2 linked regions of the Homo sapiens genome follow. The protein of the gene in region 1 interacts with the protein of each later gene in a pairwise test. Each region holds a gene or a part of one and is shown in the gene's direction. Other genes may lie near its edges.

The links.
Region 2: the proteins of LBHD1 (region 1) and ARCN1 interact in binary tests that used the Homo sapiens proteins (3 or more experiments, as listed by UniProt).

The regions. Positions count from the first base shown.
Region 1 is NC_000011.10:62,662,317-62,669,448, reverse strand, and holds the end of LBHD1 (LBH domain-containing protein 1), read left to right. Parts: intron 1-1,340; exon of another isoform or gene 1,341-1,701; coding exon 1,702-1,926; exon of another isoform or gene 1,927-2,397; coding exon of another isoform or gene 2,398-3,053; intron 3,054-3,502; coding exon of another isoform or gene 3,503-3,938; exon of another isoform or gene 3,939-4,137; intron 4,138-4,232; exon of another isoform or gene 4,233-4,279; coding exon of another isoform or gene 4,280-4,318; exon of another isoform or gene 4,319-4,475; coding exon 4,476-4,600; intron 4,601-6,115; coding exon 6,116-6,213; intron 6,214-6,289; coding exon 6,290-6,320; coding exon of another isoform or gene 6,321-6,399; 3' UTR 6,400-6,632; downstream 6,633-7,132. Other genes in the region: CSKMT (citrate synthase-lysine N-methyltransferase CSKMT, mitochondrial), read right to left, coding at 2,398-3,053, 3,503-3,938; uncharacterized protein C11orf98, read left to right, coding at 4,280-4,318, 4,476-4,600, 6,116-6,213, 6,290-6,399.
Region 2 is NC_000011.10:118,582,162-118,589,525, forward strand, and holds part of ARCN1 (coatomer subunit delta), read left to right. Parts: intron 1-1,017; coding exon 1,018-1,197; intron 1,198-1,647; coding exon 1,648-1,853; intron 1,854-2,318; coding exon 2,319-2,483; intron 2,484-7,364. UniProt on the Homo sapiens protein: Component of the coatomer, a cytosolic protein complex that binds to dilysine motifs and reversibly associates with Golgi non-clathrin-coated vesicles, which further mediate biosynthetic protein transport from the ER, via the Golgi up to the trans Golgi network.

The DNA.
Region 1 (7,132 bases):
ATGGGTGCCATCCTTTAATCTGTACTTTCTTTTTCTTCTTTTTTTTTTTTTTGAGACTGAGTCTCGCTCTGTCACCCAGACTGGAGTGCAGTGGCGCGATCTCAGCTCACTGCAAGCTCCGCCTCCTGGGTTCACGCCATTCTCCTGCCTCAGCCTCCCAAGCCGGCCAGTCTTGGGGTAATTTTATCTTTTCCTGCAGCAATGTAAACATTTTGAAAGTACAGATTAAGGCTGGCCGCGGTGGCTCACGCCTGTAATCCCAGCACTTTGGGAGGCTGAGGCGGGCAGATCACAAGGTCAGGAGATCGAGACCATCCTGGCTAACATGGTGAAACCCCGTCTCTACTAAAAATACAAAAAATTAGCCGGGCGTGGTGGCGGGCGCCTGTAGTCCCAGCTACTCGGGAGGCAGGAGAATGGCGTGAACCCGGGATGTGGAGTTTGCAGTAAGCTGAGATCCCACCACTGCACTCCAGCCTGGGCAAGAGCCAGATTCTGCCTCAAAAAAAACAAAAAACAAAAAAAATTACCCCAAGACCAACTACCTAAAAATAGTTTACATATTCGATACCTTCTCTTCTAGACTTTTTTCATCTCTGTGTACTGTTTTTTTGTTTGTTTGTTTTGGTTTTGGTTTTTTTTTTTGAGACAGAGTCTTGCTCTGTCCCCCAGGCTGGAGTGCAGTGGCAATGACCTCTGCTCACTGCAAGCCCTGCCTCCTGGGTTCGTGCCATTCTCCTGCCTCAGCCTCCCGAGTAGCTGGGACTACAGGCACCCGCCACCACGCCCAGCTAATTTTTTTGTATTTTTAGTAGAGACAGGGTTTCACTTTGTTCGCCAGGATCTCCTTACCTTGTGATCCGCCTGCCTGGGCCTCTCAAAGTGCTGGGATTACAGGCGTGAGCCACCGCGCCCGGCCCCGTCTGTGTACTGTTACAGAAGCTACTTTTTTTTTTTTTTTTTTTTTTGAGACAGAGTCACCCTCTGTTGCCCAGGCGGAGTGCAGTGGCAGGATCTCGGCTTACTGCAACCTCTGCCTCCCAGGTCCAAGCAAGTCTCCTGCCTCAGCCTCCTGAGTAGCTGGGGCTACAGGTTCAGGCCACCACGCCCGACTAATTTTTTTTGTATTTTAGTAGAGATGGGGTTTCACCATATTGCCCAGGCTGGTCTCAAACTCCTGAGCTCAGGCAATCTGCCCGCCTCAGCCTCCCAAGAAGCTACATTCTTTTGAGCATTTACTATGTACCAGGTACTATGCTAAACACTTTTACTTCATGATTTTCAGAACAACCCAATGAAGGTACTTCCCCTTTATAAATGAGAAAATTGAGGCTGCGAGGTTAGGCTCTTAGTGATATAATTGCTCTATTTTTTTATAAGCAAAAAATACCACAGAAATTAATTTTTAGCTCAAGTGCAGCAGCTTATCATGGCCCATTGCAGCTTTGACCTCCCAGGGTTCAAGCAGTCCTCCCAGCTCAGCCTCCTGAGTAGTTGGAACTACATGCCTGTGCCACTATCCCGGGCTCATTTGTTTTTGTAGAGTTAGGGGTGTCACTTTATTGCCAGGGCTCAAGCAATCTGCCCACCTTGGCCTCCCAAAGTGCTGTGATTATAGGTATGAGCCAGCATGCCTGGCCTAGTTTTGTAATTTGATAATATATCAGTAATATTTTTGTCCCCTCTCTTCCTCCATCCCAGGCTGGGCTTGGAGCCCACAGGACCCTAGAAGTCCTTTAAGAACATTTAACGCTGGACTCAGCTGGGGGCAGGACCAGGATGAAGAAGATGCTTGTTGGATTCTTGAGGACACAGCATGTCTGGAAGCCACCAACCACTGTCCCTTCTGGGACTCAACAGGCTCCCGTGTTTGTAGAAGTGGCTTTGTGGAATATTCCCATCTCCTGCCTCCTAATAGCTTTGAGGGTAAGTATTGTTCCCTCCCCCTCAAATATCTCATCCAGGTTTATGAAGCTCCTTATACCCATCCTCTTACAATCTCCTTTTACAGGTGACAAAAATGAGGCTTACAGGTTAGGCCACTAGATTATACAAGTCAGTCAGCGCAGGGGTTTTGATTCAGTTCCTGTCTGCTGCTTTTAGGAGCTCCAGTTAGTTGAAACTGGGGAATGACCCAATTGTACCTTCTCTTTTCAGCATTCATTTTGTGCTAAATATTGCGCACATCATTGTATGTAATCTCCGTAACTCCAAGTTATTCTCACTCTGCAGATGAGTAAACTGGGGAACAGAAACATTCAGCAATATGGCACCCAGCTAGTAAATGTGGAAGCCAGGACTCAAATTCTCACTTTGCAGCCAGATAGCTTGCAAAGACAGTTCTTCAGCCCTCTCCTTGCCCACAGAAATACTAGGGTCAGGACTACTAAAATGTCTTTAATGAGAGCCTTGAATCAAGTAAGCAAAGTAGGTGATGCCCCTGAACGGGCCTAGCTCCTGCACAGTCACAGTCCAGCCATAGGACCCTTGTTCCAGGCAGGGCAGTCGCACATCAGGGTCCTCATCTGAGAACTGAATCAGGGTCCCCTGAGGGTTTAGAACCCTCAAGCATTCTGATAGAAGCTGGTAAGCCCTAGGCAGACCTCCCCGGGCAACAGCATCCCATGTGCCTTTGTCCAGCAGTAGTTGGAAAGAGCCTGAAGAAGCCACAGCCCCCAGGTTCTGAGCATCGGCGTGCATGAAGTGGAGGCTTGAGGCAGGGTGTCCAGGGCATAGAGGTGTTTGGCCTGGGCCACCCTCCAGGAGGCTATTCATGTGGGCCACAGCCACAGGAGAAAAGTCCACCCCCAGCACATCCACTGGGTGTGGAGATTTGGTGTAGAGGCCTGTACATAGGCTGGAAGTCCCACAGCCCACATCCAGCACTCGCAGAGGACTGGCAGCCTGTGCCTCCTGCAGCAATGGCAGTAGGAGCCCCTGGACTTCGTCGTATCCAAAGAACCAGTCGAAGGTGGGGACAGTGCCCAAACGAGGCTGGGCATGCAGCCGATCCCAGAGACAGCGGTCCGCCAGGCAACTATCAGCCAGTGAGCCTGTGGGCACGGTTGGAGGGTGTCACTTGGTCTATGTCGCCACTGCAAAAACGTCGTATATACACACTGGCGTCTTTTTTTTTTTTGAGACAGGGTCTCACTCTGTGACCCAGGGTTGAGTACAGTAGCACAATGATGGCTCACTGAAGCCTCCACCTCAGCCTCCTGAGTAGCTAGGACTATAGGCGCCATCGTGCCCGGTTAATTTTTTTTGTAGACAGGGTCTCGCTATGTTGCCCTAGGTTGGTCTCGAACTCCTGGGCCAAGCGATCTGCCCGCCTCGGCCTGGCAAAGTGTTAGCATTACAGCCGTGAGCCACCACGCACGGCCCACCGTAGGGTTTGAGAATCACAATTTCAGGGACTACACTCCTGACTCACGAGGAACCCACCTTACCCTCCCCACTCTGCCCCCACCTTGCCCTCTCCACTCTGCCCCCACCTCCCTACCCGCAAAGGGGCGGCACGTCCCCATCATCAGGCTCGGCAAGTGGAGCATTCGACGCAGCGCGGCCATCTGGAGATTCGGGTAAGTTCGACCAGAGAAGCTTATGTGAAGCGTCCACCCTACTCCAGCCGGAGAGGCCTGAGGTCCAGGGGAAGATCTGCAAATTCCGCGTAGCGAAAGGCGGCGTACAGCTTCCCCGAACTCTGCAGTCCCGGAAAAAAGAACGCGGACACAGACTATGGTAGGAACGGCCTTTATTGGCTGCAGCGGGAAGTGGAGGAGGGTATACAGCGTCCGCAGACCTGAAATCAAATGAGAAAGTGTGAGCACCCCGATGGAGGAGCCAGCTGGATCTCGGTTGTCCTTCTCCGAGATTCCCGGTGTCCCGGCGTTTGAGGATAGAACCAGCGGATGGGAAGCCGCCAGCACCGAAGACATGACGCCGAGGGGGCCAGAGCCCTTTCCCTCTTCCTCCGTACATTACGGGGAGCGGCACCACAAGCCCGATCCCCGCCAAGAAAAGGAGGGTCCTGAGACCCCGCCCAGAGCCTTCCACCCGGCACCCCCACCACTCCCGGCCGCCCAATCTGGCTACTACAGCTAAAACCACACTTACTAGCTCACCACCCTCCGAAAGGCCTCCCGCACCGCGGAGCTCCTTTATATAGCCCGAGGACCCGCCCCCGAGTTGCGATTGGCCCGCGGAAGGCCGGGGCGGAGCCCCGCGGATCCGGCGCTGAGCGGAAGTACGGACCGTGAACTGGAGTGGAATCGCGACTATGGGAGCTCCGGGGGGAAAGATCAACCGGCCCCGAACGGTGACTGTGTGGGGGCCGCGACTTTGTTTCCTCAAGCGTTCCTGAGCCCTTTTATCTCGCACGAGATGGGATCAGTGAGGGGCCGGGGCTGCCTGGTGGAGGGGCCCCGGGTCGCGGCGAGCCCACTCCATCTGATTCGCATCTTTCTCCCCGGCAGGAGCTGAAGAAGAAGCTGTTCAAACGCCGGCGGGTGTTGAATCGGGAGCGGCGTCTGAGGCACCGGGTGGTCGGGGCTGTGATAGACCAAGGGCTGATCACGCGGCACCACCTCAAGAAGCGGGCGTAAGTACTAGACCCTCTTCCTGTTGGTCGTCCCCACCGAGTCTTCCTTCCTCCCTGCAGAGCTCCGGAGCAGCTTCACCTCTCAGCTCACCTTGTGCACTGACGCTTATGCGGGGAATGTCTGTCGGCTGTTAGTTCCTAAGCTCTGATAGCCTCTCACAATACCTGTAGCAGACAACCTTTCTTTGGGTTTTGGATTCTGTTAAGAATCTCAGGAAAGCCGGGGATGGTGGCTCATACCTGTAATCCCAGCACTTTGGGGGGCTGAGGTGGGCGGATCACCTGAGGTCGGGAGTTCGAGACCAGCCTGACCAACATGGTGAAACCCCGTTTTTGCTAAAAATACAAAAATTAGCCAGGCGTTGTGGCCGGCACCTGTAGTCCCAGCTACACGGGAGGCTGAGGCAGGAGAATTGCTTGAACCTGGGAGGCGGAGGTTGCAGTGAGCCGAGATCACGCCACTGCACTCCAGCCTGGGCCACAGAGTGAGACTCCGTCTCAAAAAAAAAAAAAAAAAAAAAAGAATATCAGGAAATCTGTTGGCTCTCCATTCTCCAAGTAATGTTATACATTCACACAGATTTTTATAAGTAAACTTATTTTTACATACAGAAAAGTGCACACATAGGCGCATAAAACTCGAAGAATTTTCCCAAAGGCACTCATAGGATTTCACTTGTAAGTTTCAAGGCCTCCTGTGTCTTGAGGAAGAGTTCCCATCCCATTAATTACTTTCTGTGTCCTTTTTTTTTTTTTTTTTTTTTTTCCTCTTTTTTGAGACAGAGTCTCCCTCTGTTGCCCAGGCTGGAGTGAAGTGGCATGATCTCGGCTCACTGCAACCCCTGCCTCCTGGGTTTAAGCTATTCTCTTGCCTCAGCCTCCCGAGTAGCTGGGATTACAGGTGCTCCCCACTGCACCCGGCTAATTTTTGTATTTTTAGTAGAGACGGGGTTTCACCATGTTGGCCAGGCTGGTCTTGAACTCCTGACCTCAGGTGATCCGCCCACCTCAGCCTCCCAAAGTGTTGGGATTACAGGCATAAGCCACCGCCCCCGATCTATGTCCTTTCATTAGCTTCTTCAATGTAAATATTTAGGGTTTCTATTACTATTTATATTATATTTATTTAATACTTTTCCTTTTTTTTTTTTTTTTGAGACGGAGTCTCGCTTTGTCGCCCAGGCTGGAGTGCAGTGGCGCGATCTCGGCTCACTGCAAGCTCCGCCTTCTGGGTTCACGCCATTCTCCTGCCGCAGCCTCCCGAGTAGCTGGGACTACAGGCGCCCGCCACTGCGCCCAGCTAATGTTTTGTATTTTTAGTAGAGACAGGGTTTCACCGTGGTCTCGATCTCCTGACCTCGTGATCCAGCCGCCTCGGCCTCCCAAAGTGCTGGGATTACAGGCGTGAGCCACTGCGCCCAGCCTATTTAATACTTTTTCTATAGCCAGAACTATTTGTGTGACCTCAGTTGGTTCAGGTTAACCTAGCTCTCTTTATTTCCACTTACCCATCAGGTCCAGTGCACGTGCCAACATTACACTGTCAGGGAAGAAGCGCAGAAAACTCCTCCAGCAGATCCGGCTTGCCCAGAAAGAGAAGACAGCCATGGAAGGTGAGGCTGGGACAGAGGTGGGTGAGGGGAATCCTGGATTTATTTGGGATAATACTTCCTTCTTCCCTTTACTCAGTGGAAGCCCCTTCAAAGCCAGCCAGGACTAGTGAACCACAGCTCAAAAGGCAAAAGAAGACAAAAGCCCCCCAGGATGTAGAAATGAAGGACCTTGAAGATGAGAGCTAAACCTCTTCCACTAGAAGATTCTCAACTGGAGCCAGCCTTCAGACTCAGTGGTTGTTTCAGAGGACTTTGACAAAAGCAAGGCCCCTTTTCACTCTCCAGATTTCCTCCTACCTAATGGCCTACTGACCTCCCCTAGAGGGATGTCTTTGGGAGGGAAGAAGGTACAGAAGAAAGATTGGAGAAGGGCCTCTCTAGCAGTCAACTCCATTTGTAATAAAGCCCTAGCACTCTGAGATGTGTGTGATTAAATGTAGGAATGGGGATGGGTCATGAAAAGATTGGGGAGTATGGAAACAAGACAGTGAGGAAGCAGTACCCACAGCTTCCTTGTGCAAATGCAACAAGATGCCAGCCTCTGCCCTCAAGAGTGGTGGTGCCTGGCCGGGTGCAGTGGCTCACGCCTCTAATGCCAGCACTTTGGGAGGCCGAGGCAGGTGGATCACCTGAGGTCACAAGTTCGAGACCAGCCTGGCTAACCCCGTTTCTACTAAAAATACAAAAAATTAGCCGGGCGTGGTGGTGCACGCCTGTAATCCCAGCTACTTGGAGGCTGAGGCAGGAGAATCGCTTGAACCCGGGAGGCGGAGATTGCCTACCGGGGTATTGCTTGAGGCCAGGAACTCAAGGCTGTAGTGTGCTGTGATCTCATCTGTCTCCTTAGTGAGTGATACTCTAACTTTCCATTTATGACAAAGATACAGATTATTCGAGAAGTTGAAGTTACAGTGAGCCA
Region 2 (7,364 bases), about 56 Mb from region 1:
AGTCTCGCTCTTGCCCTGGCTGGAGTGCAGTGGTGCAATGGTGCAATCTCGGCTCACTGCAACCTCCACCTCCCAGGTTCAAGCAATTTTCTGGCCTCAGCCTCCCGAGTAGTTGAGATTACAGATGTGCATCGCCATGCCTGGCTAATTTTTGTACGGGGTTTCACCATGTTGGCCAGGCTGGTCTCGAACTCCTGACCTCAGGTGATCTGCCTATCTTGGCGTCCCGAAGTGCTGGGATTACAGGCATGAGCCGCTGCACCCGGCTGTAAGAATCAGGGTCTTGGGCGTGGTGGCTCACGCTTGTAATCCCAGCACTTTGGGAGGCTGAGGCGGGTGGATCACCTGAGGTCAGAAGTTTGAGACCAGCCTGACCAACGTGGTGAAACCTCGTCTCTACTCAAAATACAAAAAAATTAGCTGGGCATGGTGGCGGGCACCCATAATCCTACTACTCAGGAGGCTGAGGCATGAGAATTGCGTGAACCCAGGAGGTGGGGGTTGCAGTGAGCCGAGATCGTGCCACTGCACTCCAGACCGGGTGACAGAGTTAGACTTTGTCTTAAAAAAAAAAAAAAAAAAAAAATCAGGGAGTTAGGCTGGGCGCAGTGGCTCACGCCTGTAATCCCAGCAGTTTGGGAGACTGAGGCAAGCGGATCACCTGAGGTCAGGAGTTCAACACCAGCCTGGCCAACATGGTGAAACCCCGTCTCTACTAAAAATACAAAAATTAGCTGGGCGTGGTGGTACACACCTGTAGTCCCAGCTACTCCGGAAGCTGAGGCAGGAGAATCACTTAAACCCAGGAGATGGAGGTTGCAGTGAGCCGAGATGGCACCACTGCACTCCAGCGTGGGCAGCAGAGCGAGACTCTGTCCCAAAAAATAAAATAAAGACTAGAAGTAGCTAATAAAGGGATTTAGGTTATTGAAATTTATGTACTCTAAAGGATAAGACTTGGAAATATAGCTGCTGATAAATTCTAAATCTTTCTTTTTTATTGGTGTCCACGCTTAGATCCCTGAATATTGCCGAGCCTTAGAAGAGAATGAAATATCTGAGCACTGTTTTGATTTGATTTTTGCTTTTGATGAAATTGTCGCACTGGGATACCGGGAGAATGTTAACTTGGCACAGATCAGAACCTTCACAGAAATGGATTCTCATGAGGAGAAGGTGTTCAGAGCCGTCAGAGAGGTAAATAGGATCTTCTCTGGGACTACCTGTTTGTATGTCTTTCTCTTAGGCTTCACTAATCTCATTTTCCTATTTTTACTTACTAATGTAGACTGTATTCAAAACTATGTCCAGGCTAGGCACAGTGGCTCATGTCTGTAATCTCAGCACTTTGGGAGGCGGAAGTGGGAGTATCACTTGAGTCCAGGAGTTCAAGACCAGACTGGACAGCGTAGTGAGACCCTGTCTCTATAAAAAGTAAAAAAAAAATTAGCCAGGCATGGTAGCACGTGCATGTGGGTCCCAGCTACTTGGGAGGCTGAGATGGGAGGATCACTTGAGCCCAGGAAGTTGAGGCTGCAGTGAGCTGTGATTGTGCCACTTGCACTCCAGCCTGGGTCACAGAGTGAGACCCTGTCTCAACAAAAACCCAAAAAAAAAAGCTACATTAATGTATGTCTTTTTCTGTAGACTCAAGAACGTGAAGCTAAGGCTGAGATGCGTCGTAAAGCAAAGGAATTACAACAGGCCCGAAGAGATGCAGAGAGACAGGGCAAAAAAGCACCAGGATTTGGCGGATTTGGCAGCTCTGCAGTATCTGGAGGCAGCACAGCTGCCATGATCACAGAGACCATCATTGAAACTGATAAACCAAAAGTGGCACCTGCACCAGCCAGGTATAATCCAGTGTACTTTAGAATACCAGGTGAAGGGTGTATATGTGTCTATCTTTGAAGTCATAATCTGATTTCTTGGAAAGCTGTAAATAAAGAAGGACTTGATGAAGTAAGATATGATGTTACATTTGGCCACATACAATATGAGGATAAAGAAGAAATCTGAATGTGGTGTTTTTCCTTTTGTATAAAAGAGAGTTATAAATTATGTCATGACCTCAGTTTCCTATGAGAGTTGCCTTATTGTGGGGAGGAAAGGGCTATTTAATGCTTTATGGAATGTAGATTTTTAATCTTGATGTTCATTGATTGATTTTAGGGGAAATCTGTGAATTACCCAAAATTATATACAAAATTTTGTGCACAGGTGTATTTCTCTGGACGGGAGATACAAAATTTTCATCAGATCATGTGTGCTTGTAAAAATAAACCTTTGGGTAATGAATTTCAAATTCTTCCACTTAGGCCTTCAGGCCCCAGCAAGGCTTTAAAACTTGGAGCCAAAGGAAAGGAAGTAGATAACTTTGTGGACAAATTAAAATCTGAAGGTGAAACCATCATGTCCTCTAGTATGGGCAAGCGTACTTCTGAAGCAACCAAAATGCATGCTCCACCCATTAATATGGAAAGGTAAGTAGGAACTTTGAGTAAGAATTCAAGCTTTGAATACAGTCCACATAATTTTTTAAAAATCTTATTTCAGTGTGCTATAAATTCTTTCTCTGTCTTTTAATCGTTCCTGATTTAAAAGATTTATTCAGAGCAGATTCTACATATTAACATAAGATCGTTTTTGGTTTTGTTTTGTTTTATTTACTTATTTTTTTTTGAGATGGAGTCTCACTCTGTCACCCAGGCTGGAGTGCAGTGGTGTGATCTCGGCTCGCTGCAAGCTCTCCCTCCCAGGTTCACGCCATTCTCCTGCCTCAGCCTCCCGAGTAGCTGGGACCACAGGCGCCCACCCCTACGCCCGGCTAATTTTTTTGTATTTTTAGTAGAGATGGGGTTTCGCCGTGTTAGCCAGAATGGTCTCGATCTCCTGACCTTGTGATCCGCCTGACTCAGCCTCCCGAAGTGCTGGGATTACAGGCGTGAGCCACCACGCCCGGCTGTTGTTTTGTTTTATTTTTTTGAGACAGGGTCTTACTATGTTGTCTAGGCTGGCCTCCAACTCCTGAGCTCAGTTAATCTTCCTGCCTCAGCCTCCCAAGTAACTGGGATACAGGCATGCGTTGCTGCACCTGACCTTTTCCTTTTTCCTTAAACCATGATTGGGGGCCCTCAGCCACCTATTTTCTATGAAGTTTAGAACTTTCCTTTTACAGCTAAATTAAAGTTACTTGTAGTCACACCTGGTATATAGCGTATCTCTTAGAATGCACTTGAATTAGGGGACTAGAGCTATGGTGACCCCACACTGTATTTTGGCATGACTTTTTCTAATTAAAGTCTAAGTAGAACCAATCTTTAATCCAAAACTTGTAGATATCTTTAATAGCAAATTAATATATTTTGCATTTTTATTTTATTTATTTATTTTTTTGAGATGGGGTTTCACTCTGTCACCCAGGCTGGAGTACAGTGGTGCAATCTCAGCTTGTTGCAACCTCTGCCTCCCAGGTTCAAGTGATTCTCCCACCTCAGCCTCCCAAGTAGCTGGGACTACAGGCATGCACCACCACGCTGGGCTAATTTCTGTATTTTGGTAGAGATGGGGTTTTGCCTTGTTGCCCAGGCTGGTCTCGAACTCCTGGACTCAAGCAATCTGCCTGCCTCGGCCTCACAAAGTACTGGGATTACAGGCGTCAGCCACCATGCCCAGCCATCTTTTGCAGTTTAAATATTTGAAGCCAGTATGGAATATTTTGATTCATCTCTTATCTCAGGGCTGTGGTACTGGTTGGTGACATTTTTAAGTGGTAGTTATCAAGTTCACATATTCGTGACTCAGATTTCTCGTCTTGAAGCCAGACCTTCTACTGTTGCTGATGGTTTTGAGGTCAAGTGAAAGATAATACCAGGAGGATACCTTTATCAGGTGTGCATAAAAGAGGAGTATTTACTCTTTTTCTTTCTTCTTTCCTTTCTTTCTTCCTTTCTTTCTTTCTTGACAGAGTCTTGCTCTGTCTCCCAGACTGGAGTGCAATGGCACGATCTTGCAACCTCCACCTCCCGGGGTCAAGCAATTCTCCTGCCTCAGCCTCCCAAGTGGCTGGGATTACAGGTGCACGCCATCACACCCGGCTAATTTTCTTATTTTTAGTAGAGACAGAGTTTTGCCGTGTTGGCCAGGTGGGTCTCGAACTCCTGACCTCAAGTGATCTGCCTGCCTCTGCCTCCCAAAAGTGCTTGGATTATAGGCGTGAGCCACCGTGCCCAGCCAAGTATTTACTCTTTATATGCCCTGTTCTGTATGAAATGAACAGGGTTACATTGGGATAAATTTCTTGATTCACTAAAGCCGCTGTGCTCTTCCTAGTGGTTGCTTTGAGTGAGACAGAGGCTTCACACTTTTAAAAAGATATTCCTGAGTGCAGTGGCCCACACCTGTAATCTTAGCACTTTGGGAGGCTGAGGTGGGCGGATTGCCTGAGCTCAGGAGTTCAAGACCACCCTGGGCAACATGGTGAAACTCCATCTCCACTAAAATACAAAAAATTAACCCCTTCTCCACTAAAATACAAAAAATTAGATGGGCGTGGTGGCACACACCTGTAGTCCCAGCTACTCAGGAGGCTGAGGCAGGAGAATTGCTTGAACCCGGGAAGCAGAGGTTGCAGTGAGCCAAGATGGTGCCACTGCACTCCAGCCTGGGCGACAGAGTGAGACTCTATCTCCAAAAAAAAAAAAAAAAAAAAAATGTTGGAGATCATCACATATTAAAGAGAATTTGAGACACTGTTTTTTTCTAAATGATAAATTGCCTCTTGAGCACAGAGCAAACTTTTGTGAAGGTAAAATGGTACCATGCATTGTCTTAAGATGCACTCCTTTATGGTCTTGACTCTGATGCCTTTGTTTCTAGGAAGACCTAAGAGGTTGGAACAAAGAACATGGTAGGATAACAAAATATTTTTTGTAGCCTCTGTAGTTCATCCAGCCAAACGTATGTCTATTACTGAATATGAATAGATTGTACTTAATACTTGCCTCTAGCAGCAGCAGTTTTTAATCTTTTAAAAATTGGATTATACATTCATATAGTACAAAATTCAAAAGTTGTTAACAGTCAGAAGTCTTCCTCTCACTCAGCCATGCCAGTTTCTCATTTTGGAGACAACTAGTATTAACAGAGTTTTTTGTGTATCCTTCTAAGGGGGATGGTCTGTGATATACAGATGAATAAAAAACATGTATACAGTGTGTCTATTTTTCCCCCTTTTATGCAAAGCAGTAAAACTAGACACGTCTTCCAATTGCATTTTTCATTTAATTATTTTGGAGATAAGAATCTCCTTATTTGAAACTGCAGAGATATGACATCTAAATGCGCAATACCTTACCCTAGACTGGATCCTCTACTAATGTAGTGTAGAAAAAACAACTCAAACTGTTTGTTTTTTCTATTTTCTCATTCAACAGCAACAATGAACACAGAAGACTTCTGTGATCAAGTGTGTTTAGATTTTTCCGCACACATCAAGCGGTCACACCTAGCTGGTGTCCTCCAATTCAATTCAATTCTGATGCTATCTACCTGGGAATAGCCTCAGATTCTACAGGTTGAGAGTTCAGTCCCCCAAGACTGATTCTTCCTTCCCACCAGTCATAAGTCCAGACTTTCAGAACTTCTTACTGACCTCAAGTTTGGCCTCCCACGACCCCCTCTGGGGTGTTCAATTAATCTGCTAGAGCACCTCACAGAACTCAGGGAAACTTACTTGACATTTATCAGTTTGTTACAGAGGACATTTTAAAGGATGCAAATAAGCAGCCAGATGAAGAGATACATAGGGCAAGGTCTGGGAGGGTCTTGAGCACAGGAGCTTCTGTCCCCAGGGAGCTGGGGTACGCCACCCTCCTGGAAAATAGATGAGACCTTGTTCATCTTCCTGTAAGCCTGCATGTGTTCAGCTGTCCAGAAGCTTCCCAGACCCTGTCCTCTTGAGCCTTTTATGGAGACTTCATTGGATAGGCATGATTGACAGGCATGCAGAAATGTGACTGGGCAAGGGTATGACCTAATACTGATAGGCTGAGTGGGGAAACACAGCAAGGCCTGTCCAAATTCTTGGCCTCTCTGTGCAGCATTAATCTTCCTCCAGGATATGGTGCAGGACCCCTTTTGGAGATCCTGCCTTGGGCTGGTGAAAGGAGGGCAGGAGAAGGTCAAAGAGAGGTTCTTTTTTCTAAGGGCTGCTCCTGAGGCCTAAAGTGCCCCAACATTATGTATAATAAGGGATATGGGAGTTATGAGCTAGGAACCATGGATGAAAACCGGTATGTATGTATATCATAATATCACAACTACTATTAAAAATATTATTAGGTCAACTGACGAAATTGACATATGGTTGACAGATCGGATACAATTATTGTATCATTGTTAGCCTGGCATGATGGCACATGGCTGTAGTCCTTCCTACTCAGGAGGCTGAGGCAGGAGGATCACTTGAGACCAGGAGTTCAAGGTTATAGTGAACTGTGATTGTGTCTCTGAATAGCCACTGCACTCCAGCCTGGGCAACATAGCAAGATCTGTCTCTTAAACAACAACAACAGGCTGGGTGCGGTGGCTCACGCCTGTAATCCCAACACTTCGGGAGGCCGAGGCAGGCAGATCACCTGAGGTCAGGAGTTCAAGACCAGCCTGGCCAGCATGGTAAAACTCTGACTCTAGTAAAAATACAAAAATGAACCGGGCGTGGTGGCAGGTGCCTGAAATCCCAGCTACGCAGGAGGCTGAGACAGGAGAATCACTTGAACCCGGGAGGCAGAGGTTGCAGTGAGCCGAGATCACGCCATTGCACTCCAGCCTGGGCAAGAAGAGTGAAACTCTATCTCAAAACAACAACAACAAAAAGCTAAAAAAACTATCAGTGTAAATTTGTGAAGTTAATAATGGTACTGTGATTGATTATGTAAGAGAATATCCCTAATCTTATAAAATAAGCACTGAAGTATTTAGGGGTAAAGTGCCGTGTTGTATATAATCTGCTTCTTAATGGTTCAGGGAAAAAAAATCAAATGTATAACATACATATATAATGTTTAGAGAGAGAGAAACACAAGTGCAAATTATAAAACAAATGAGGTAAATATTAACAATAGGTGAATCTGGAAAAGGGTATATATGTCTTCCTTGTATAATTTTAATTTTTTTAAGCTTGAAAATACTTACAAATAGAAAGTTTTTTCAGTTGTTTGTTTTCTCACCATTGCCTACTATTCATTCGGGTGGATATGCCTTTATTTTTTATTTTTTATTTTTTTGAGACAGAGTCTCACTCTGTTGCCCAGGCTGGAGTGCAGTGGCACCATCTCGGCTCACTGCAAGCTCCGCCTCCTGAG